Linked DNA regions of Homo sapiens. The protein of the gene in region 1 purifies or fractionates together with the protein of each later gene. This does not show direct contact. Each region holds a gene or a part of one and is shown on either strand. Other genes may lie near its edges.

Evidence for each region.
Region 2: the proteins of UGT1A7 (region 1) and GLB1L2 purify together in Homo sapiens (affinity purification with mass spectrometry; one large-scale study listed by BioGRID and IntAct). This does not show direct contact.

Annotation. Positions count from the first base shown.
Region 1 is NC_000002.12:233,680,151-233,685,338, forward strand, and holds the start of UGT1A7 (UDP-glucuronosyltransferase 1A7 precursor), read left to right. Parts: upstream 1-1,750; 5' UTR 1,751-1,787; coding exon 1,788-2,642; intron 2,643-5,188.
Region 2 is NC_000011.10:134,330,780-134,335,343, reverse strand, and holds the start of GLB1L2 (beta-galactosidase-1-like protein 2 isoform b precursor), read right to left. Parts: upstream 3,357-4,564; 5' UTR 3,283-3,356; coding exon 3,197-3,282; intron 1-3,196.

The DNA.
Region 1 (5,188 bases):
TAATGTCATGATTTTTCTTTGCTTCTTGGGAGTACTTGCAGCATCATTAGTTGCACTTTATAGTCCCATGGTGGTATTCAAGGTTTAAAAAATTACACTAAACATGATGAAAAATACAGTAGAACCATAAGAGATCATTTTTTACTCTGACATGCAATTTACTAGAGAGAAGAAACGCGCAGAGGGTATAAACGTCATATCACATGCATTTAGGCCACACTTTAGCTCCCTGCAATAGCAACAGGAGGTAGCAACAAAATTATTATAGTAGTGTAGTATGTACTAGAGGAAAGTGACTAAGCAAATGTCTAGTACCAGTTAGGGTGTCCTGGAAGGAACCATCTTGTGCTTCTACAAGAATTATGCCCTGAGGTTGGCTGTTGAATCCCTCACGAAATGCTCCTCAGTGTGTTGCCTAACACACACTGCTGAGCTCACCCATTAAAATCTGCATGATGGAATTCAGCCCAATGCAATGAGAATTCCCATGGACTTCCTCTGTGCAAGGCAAAGCATGGGTGCTGTGGAAGGAGGATGAAAACAGGTAGAAGATGTAATCTCATCCTCAAGGGGTGCTCGGTAGAATGGAGGAAACAATACATAGATTCCTGAAGATGAGCACCAAAGTGATTGGGGTGGGCCCATAGCAAAGGCCTGCAGCTCTGTTCAGAATGCAGAAGCAGAGTGGGCAGAGAGAGACAGCTCATTAGAGTGCTTGGGCAAGCATAGGGACGGCGACTCACCACTGCAGACAATGTATCTGAGGAAAGCCATTTAAAATAGGTGACAGTCACATTCCATCAAATTTCTGGAAGGGTCCATGGAGGCAGGGTTGTCAATCTCATTACAGCATTTCAGAGGCCTCAGAAGATTTGGAAATGAAAAAAGACAAGCAGCACTTGTGGCTCACCTGTGTCACAATTGTGGCTCACCTGTGTCTCTGCAATGCGCAAGTGAGCTGTGTATTGCAGAGACACAGGTGAGCCGCAATTTCCTCCCAGTTAGGAGGTCAACGCTAAGACCCTTGCTCTCTTTCCGTCGAACATGAGATGCCAATTTCTTTCTGGGCAGAGGACAAAATAAAAATTGTCTATAAACTTTGGCCAGGTGTAGTGGCTCACGCCTGTAATCCCAGCATTTTGGGAGGCCGAGATGGGCAGATTGCCTGAGCTCAGGAGTTCGAGACCAGCCTGGGCAACATGGTGAAACCCCGTCTCCACTAAAATACAAAAAGTTAGCTGGGCATGGCAGCGTGCGCCTGTAATCCCAGCTACTGAGGCTGAGGCAGGAGAATCGTTTGAACCCAGGAAGTGGAGGTTGCAGTGAGCCTAGATCTTACCACTGCACTCCAGCCTGGATGACACAGTGAGACTCCATCTCAAAAAAAAAAAAAAAAAAAAAAAATTGCAAATTTTTCTTTGTGACAAATTCCAAAATTATTAGCTTCGTTCAAATTTACTTTCCTTTTTATCTTTCAATGTCGTCAAGGCCAAAAGCATTGCTTAATAATTTTGTTTCTAAACTCATATTGCAGCACAGGGCATGATCTGTCCCCAAGGCAAAGATGATGAGTTACTCTTTTCTTGAAAACATATAAGCAGGTATCTCAGCAAAGGCTACTCATGTATTATTATGAGTAAATCATTGGCAGTGAATGTGAATTTTTTTTTAAATGAATGAATAAGTACACGCCTTCTTTTGAGGGCAGGTTCTATCTGTACTTCTTCCACTTACTATATTATAGGAGCTTAGAATCCCAGCTGCTGGCTCTGGGCTGAAGTTCTCTGATGGCTCGTGCAGGGTGGACTGGCCTCCTTCCCCTATATGTGTGTCTACTGCTGACCTGTGGCTTTGCCAAGGCAGGGAAGCTGCTGGTAGTGCCCATGGATGGGAGCCACTGGTTCACCATGCAGTCGGTGGTGGAGAAACTCATCCTCAGGGGGCATGAGGTGGTCGTAGTCATGCCAGAGGTGAGTTGGCAACTGGGAAGATCACTGAATTGCACAGTGAAGACTTACTCAACCTCATACACTCTGGAGGATCAGGACCGGGAGTTCATGGTTTTTGCCGATGCTCGCTGGACGGCACCATTGCGAAGTGCATTTTCTCTATTAACAAGTTCATCCAATGGTATTTTTGACTTATTTTTTTCAAATTGCAGGAGTTTGTTTAATGACCGAAAATTAGTAGAATACTTAAAGGAGAGTTGTTTTGATGCAGTGTTTCTCGATCCTTTTGATGCCTGTGGCTTAATTGTTGCCAAATATTTCTCCCTCCCCTCTGTGGTCTTCGCCAGGGGAATATTTTGCCACTATCTTGAAGAAGGTGCACAGTGCCCTGCTCCTCTTTCCTATGTCCCCAGACTTCTCTTAGGGTTCTCAGACGCCATGACTTTCAAGGAGAGAGTATGGAACCACATCATGCACTTGGAGGAACATTTATTTTGCCCCTATTTTTTCAAAAATGTCTTAGAAATAGCCTCTGAAATTCTCCAAACCCCTGTCACGGCATATGATCTCTACAGCCACACATCAATTTGGTTGTTGCGAACTGACTTTGTTTTGGAGTATCCCAAACCCGTGATGCCCAATATGATCTTCATTGGTGGTATCAACTGTCATCAGGGAAAGCCAGTGCCTATGGTAAGTTATCTCCCCTTTAGCACATTAAGAATAATCTGGCTTTGGAAATTAAAAGATTTCTTACAGAATCATAATTTATCATTTACATTTGTCCCATTTGGAATTTCTTTCTGGTTTAAGGAATTCTTTTGTACCAATTCACTTAATTGTTGGGTAGCAAATTGTATAAAGCAGCTCTTGTTGATATGTAAGTGTATACAATTGATATAATTGTAGATCATATCTAGGCTGCAATCTAAATGCTATTTTTGGAAAAATACAAAAAAACCACAGTAAGAAATGAAACTTCCCTTTTTTTGCTAATTCTACACTACCCCCAGAGGAAAATATTCTTAGCAGTTTTGTGTGAATTGTTTTCAATTTTTTTGAAATTATACTATGTATATGCATATATTTAGGGTAAATTGTCACTTCTATTTTATCAATATAAAATCTACTATCATGCTGGCTATGTTTTTTTATGTTAGATTTTTCTCTTGTCAATAAGTTAAAGATATCTTTACAGGTCAATGCATACAGATTTGACATGTTCTTTTAATAATTGCATGGTAGTCTTTACTTTGGATGCAATGTAGTTTTCCAACCAATTAAGATTGATAGAGATTTAAGTGTTTTCCACTTTTGGGGTTTATGAGCAATAATAAGAATTCTTGTATACTTTCTTTACATTATATATATTTTCATATTTTTGCTTTTATCTCAGTAGGGTATCATCCTATGAGTATGGTTGCTTGGTTTTCACTAAATGAGTGAGATTGGCCTTCTTTTGCTATTACATCTTCCTACTCAAGAATATGAATCCCTCATTATTTATTCGGATTCTGTTTTATTTCCATAAATAAAATTTTGCACTTTATAAAAGTATTTCATCTTTCTTATTAACCTTTATTCCTCTGCATTTCATTATTTTTGAAACCATTATGTGCAAGGCAATTTTCCCATTTCTCTTTTGAATTCACTATGCATAATTAATGTACTGCTTTGAGTTTTACACATTTATCTTGTATGTAGTCATATTACTAAACTCTCGTATTAGTATGTAAGGTGTATTAAGTATGCAATATCATCTGCAAATTATTCCCTCCCCTGGTATTTATACCTCTTATTTTGGCGGAGCATATAGTTCCAAAATATTATTAATATTGTTGGTCTAGCCAGCTTAAATTAGGATTTGGTCACTTGCAATTGAAAAAGTCGTGACAAATACAAGAGTAAGATTCTTGGCAAATGCATAGTTGCTAAATCCAGGTGAAACACCTGGTGTCTGATCTAAGTATATTATTTTGTTAGGGATGGAGTATACATTTTTATCTATTGTTCTGGCTTCTTACAAAGTTCAGTAGACTTTGTAACACAGTCACATTCTCTCTCATATTGGCAGATGTTTGGTGAAAGAGTGACTGTTCAACCAACTCATGGGAAAATGCAACCAAGCGCTTTCTAAAAATCAGGGAGACTACAGTTGTAGGCCTTTCAAATGAAACATGACTTTCAGCTCTTGGCAAGACCAGGCGAGGAGATGCAAGTTGTAGGACGCTAAGAGGATAGACTTGTCAAAGTGTCTCTCCCCTGTTTACCCTCCATCAATTACAGCACCAGCCATCACTCAGGTATTGCCTGCAGCCTCACCCTCTAGCCAAGTGTGTGGCCTGCCACTTTCTGAACCCATGCTGAGTTTGTTGTGGCTCAAAGGGTCACCCAAAGGGATTTAGAGATGTAGAAATTATATATGATTCTATACCACCTATAATGGTATATGATAGAGAGATCTATAAAATATGAAACATTGAGCCATATATAGTTTTACATATTTTGGTTATTTGTATATCTTCAGTGGTGTATAAAATATATGCATTTATATGCCTTTAAGGAATATACATATGATAGGATTTATAGATGTGGAAGGTTATGTATTAATGTATATATTTATAAATAGAAAATAAATATAATTATCAAAGAAGAATTCAGATCATAAAGAGTGCCCTTTGGCAAAGAGCCCTGGATATGGCTCAACCACAAAAGTAAATTGTCATAGAAAAATTTATGGACACTGTATAGTGTTCCTTTCTTGTTTCATATGGGCAGGGTGTGTCTTGGAAAAGTATACAGTTTTTTGTACCTTGTTAGACAACAGGATTCATAGTCTGCATTTCATCTGTCTGATGAAAAGAAAGCATTGCTTGATGATGCAGTGTGTGTGTATGTGGTGTTTGTGCACGTATGTGTCTGTATGTGCAGGTGTGTTTGTGTGCAATGTCTTAAGCTCTGCACAGGAGATTTTTTTTCTGAAAGGTTTCCTATAACAAAATCTTATTGAGTCTATCCAGGTGAATTACATCCAGGGATGTAATTAAATACTTTAACAAGGATGGTAGATCATCATTCAGGAGAACATTAAAACGGTTTTGTTTTGTATTTTTAATAGAGACGGGGTTTCACCATGTTGGCCAGGCTGGTCTCTGACTCCTGACCTCAAGTGATCCGCCCGCCTCCGCCTTTCAAAGTGTTGAGATTACAGGTGTGAACCACCACACCCGGACTTAAAG
Region 2 (4,564 bases), on another chromosome or scaffold:
AATAGGCAAGGCCCATAAAATCAATTACCTCCCAGAAGCTCCAGAGGAGAGGCATGATTTGGCCACATACCCTTGGAAGACAGGACTGGCCATGATTCACATAAAAAAAAAAAAGTGACCTGCATTGCTAAGTTAGCCACCTTGTTCAGGAGAAAGAGTTTGATACATCTCCTCCTTTTCCTTTCTATAGGAAGAATTTGGGGTCTGGAATAAAGAAAACAGCAGGGCAGGGCAGTGTGTGAGACGGACCTCAGAGAAGAAATGAACTTACCTCTTAGGAGCATGATGCTGGCTGCCCACATGAAGGCTTTCCCCTCTCCCAACTTTCCCAGCTAAAATTTCAGGTATGAGAGATGCAGCGTTGCCTGTATTCTTGCTCGGTGATTCATTTATATTAAGGAAAAAATCATGAATGAGAACCATGCCTTTAGATAATATCAAGCAGGCATTCTTGTGTTCATGGAGTGCGAATAGGAAGAGAATGAAAGGCAACTGGCTCAAAGGCACGGTTCGCACTGATACGTGCATCGCAGACCTCAAAATAATACTCTGAGTGAAAGAAGCCAGACCAAAAAGGAAAACATGCTTTAAGATTACAATTCTATAAAACACTAGAAAATGCAAACCAATATATCGTGTCGGAAAGCAACAGATCAGTGGTTGCTTGGGGCTGGGGAGCAGGGAGGAGTAGGAGGGAGGGATGACAGAGAGGTACATGGAAACTTTGGGGGCTGGTGGCTGTTTTCACAATCTTAACTGTGGTGATAGATTCACAGCTGGATTTAGATATGTGTCAAAGCTTATCAAATTGTACATATTAATTAAACTCCAATAAAGGTAATTTTTAAGAAAGACCACTGTTTACGCTTAAAAAAAATAAAAATAAAAATTCTAAGACTGAAATCCTCCCCAAAAGTCAACCTGGTCATCCTAGTCTTTTGATATGATGTAACCCACCAGCTATGACTGACCGTGAACCAGCCCAAGGAAAAGTTGATGAAAAAAAAGAAAAGCTATAGCCAAACATCCCCCAGCCCATGCCAGCCACTGTCCAAATACCTGCCTTCTGCTACAGGAAAGGGGCTGCTCCTGACAGCTCGGCTCCACAAAGAGTGAACTTGGTGGCCAGTTTCCACGTGACCTATATTCCACTGGCCACCTCAACACTGCCCAGTAACAGCTGGGAGAGGCCCCACCTCCCACTCAGTTAATGACCCAGTCAGAGCTGGGGCAAGACAGGAAGAGGGAAAGACAAAGAGGATGTTCTCCTCCTGCCTCCAGAGATATTACAGCAACTCATACTCACTGGTGTCCAGCCCAAGTCAGACAGGAGGAACTGGCAGAATGTACCCATGAGGGTGAAAAAATCAAAAAGATGCCAAAAAGACACGTATTCCACAGGATCTGAAGACACGGCCCTGAACTTGGTTCAGAGCTCCTTGAGCTTCTGTTCTACCTGCTAGAAGGATGGAGAGGCAAGAAAAACATCCTTCCCAGGCAGGCCAAACTGTTTTCACAGAATTTGGTTGCAGCTCTTTATTCTCTGTTGCCATTCCACCTGCTCCAATGGCCCAAGACTGACTCCTAGTGCGGTCACCCCACCTAGGTGGGGACACAGTTACCTCACCTCAAAGAAGCTCAGGCGTCTTCCCAGCTAGGTCAGCTCCCTGCCACCTCACCTCTGTCCCACCAAACAATAACAAACCCTCAGCCTCCTTCGCATACCTTTTCCTGGGGACTTTTTGGGTGTACCACTCAGCCCATCTCAAGCCCACAGTGCTGCCCCAAATAGTGACCTGCCTGGGTCCCCTGCACGGACTCCTGTATCCCTGACCAACAACAGGCCTGCAGCCGCTAGCCTTTCTCTTGGCAGCTTGCACGCCTTGCTACCCTGCTGTATGCAGGAGGATCTGCTGCCGCTGCTCTGAGTAATTCTTCTGGGGTTTGCGTAAGCCTTGCACAGGGAGGAAAGCTGAGCATCCCACAGGAGCCAGGGCCAATCTTCAGAGAGGAATGGCTTAGAGATCTTAGGCAGGACAGAAAACATCTTGGGAACAACCGGAGAAGTTAAATGCCTGAAGTTTTCTGGGCCCCAGAATGAGAAGAAAATCCGTCCTTCTCCCAAACAATATCATGACGTCCCCACTATCTCAGAAACAAGAATCCAGTCTTGACAAGGTGTAAACATAGAGTTTGTCAGTGTGTTCTTCTGGCCACAAAGGACTTCCAGATATTTATCTCCATCAAAAACTTCCCTGTCTCCCAGGGGAAGTGCAGAGAAACTAAGAACTTAGTTTCTCTAAGTAAAAAAGAAGCAAATGACAAAGCCGAGCGGCGTAGGGCCTGCCACCACTTCCAACCGTTCAGTTCATTCGATACTGCCGGTCGGCTTCCCACTGGAGGTTTTGAATATGGAAAGTGCTGACCTGAAAGATAGGGTCAGGGCTGTAGAATCCTTAAAATAAGCACAGTTTAGAAAAATGCTGGGCTAGGGCACCCAGAAAACTTTTTCACAGGCTGTGGGTAAATCACAGTATCACTGAAGCCACTCCTTTGCCATAAACAACATTTGGAAAAGGGGGAGAGGAAAGGGTGAGCTGGTAACAGGTGAATGGTGGGAAAGTGGAGAGAGACGACCTATCAGTCCTACTGTGCAAATAAATCATGGCCCGGGATCTTGGAGGCCCACGGACACTGTTCTTACGACCCTGCCAGGCCAGCTGGCTAGACCATACCTGCCAGGCTGAAGCGCCGGCCTCTGCGGAATAAGGCGCCTCCCAGAGGCTTGGGAGGAAAAGGGGGGCCTGGGGGAAGGGCAGAGGGAGCTCTCCGCGGAGCAGTGGGGACGGGGCCGCGATGGGGTGCGTCTGAGAGGGCTCTGACGGCTGGAGGGCTGCGGGCGTCCACGGGGGGCAGAGCCCGGCGTCACAGGCGCGGCGGGGTGGGCGGCTCGGGGCACAGACGCCGGCTCCCGAGGGCACGCCGGGTGTCGCCCAGAGGCCTGGATCGCGCGGCAGGAGTAGAGTGCCTGCAGCCGCAGGGGAACTCGGGGGTATTGGGGAGCTCCCAGAAAGAAGCAGCTGGGGCTGCTCCCCCCGGGAACTCGGGATTCGCGGGTCGCGGGAGGAGAGAACCCGAGGTGCGGAGGGCTGGGGAATGTGGGGTCCGGCAGGTGCTGCGCGAAGCTCTCTCTCACCTGCGGAGCACCAGGAAGCCCAAGACGACCAGCAGCAGGAGTCCCAGCGTGCGGGCCGGCCTCCGCCGGAGGCTCCACGTGGTCATCGCGTGTTCTCTAAGCGCGGGGACCCGGGTTCCCACTCCAGTCCGCACTCAGCCGCGCGCGGGAGCCTCGCCGCGGGGGGCGGAGCCGCGCACTGGTCGCCTGGGCAACCGGCCCGCCGGCGCTCATTGGCTGGGGCTCGCGGCTCCGCGCCTGCAGCCCTAGGCCTCGCGCAAGCGGGGGCGGGGCTGGCCGGGGCCGGGGCGGGGCCTCTGTCGGGGGGGGGGCGGGGCGGGGCTGGTGGGCGGGGACGAGGTCTCGGTAGGAGAGGGGGCTGGCGGGGGCGGGGCTGGCGGGGCGGGGCCCCGGCCGGGGGCGGGGCGGGGACAAGGTCTCGGTAGGGGACGGGTCTGGCCGGGGCGGGTCCCCAGTGTCGTGGAGCGGTGCAGAGTCCGCCGTCTTTCTGCTCGCGAGGCGCAGGCGGGTGCGGGAATGCTGCGTACCTGTCAAACGCCGAGGTAAAGTCGCCCCTCGCAGCGCTACATCAGGAAGAACGTACAAAAGGCGTCCGCAAAGCAGGGGCAACCAACAGAATCTTTTAAAACAATTCAGATTCTGAAGCAAACAACTTTTTCAATAACAAATCATCCTGTGAAAAGCCAGGATTTTGAAGAATTGTATCTGGACACATTTCAGTGTGGTTCATGTCTGAGGAGGGGGGGTTCCAAATATTTTCTGTCTTTGGTTTCTGCGAGTCTTACTCTGGCCTTGACTCCAAGGGCTTCCAATTTTTTATTTTAAAAAGGTCCATATAAAACTCTCACATTTTAGGAAAGGAAGAATATCATTCTTATTCTGAAACAGAATGTATGTCCCAAAGAACATGATGTAGTATTTCGGTGCAACTTACACTGTAGCAATCACAAACCCAACTCCTCCCGGGAACAAAATTCAGATTTTACTGAAAGAAACTCGAGGAAGGGCAACGTTTTCCAGAGCATCCGGGTTTGTCGAATGTCTCCCTTGCCGCATGCTTTGAATTCATTTCCTAAACGGGGGCATAGTTTTGAACTTGTAAAGCCGACAGGAACCAAATGAAATTGCAGATCTTGGAACAAAGACACAGACTTGGGTATGAAGTGTCCTTTGTCTAGCGTTAAGCACATATTTAGTCAAGGAGCAAAAGTTAAATCAAAGAGAGGCAAAAACAAACGAACAAACAAGAGGAAAAAAACCCTGGCAGAACTGGGGAGGATAAGCTGGGCTTGGAGCAATCCGGGTCTGACTTAAGCACCGCAAACATTCCCAGAGGCGCGCAGAGGGAGGCCCACTCCCGTGGACGCG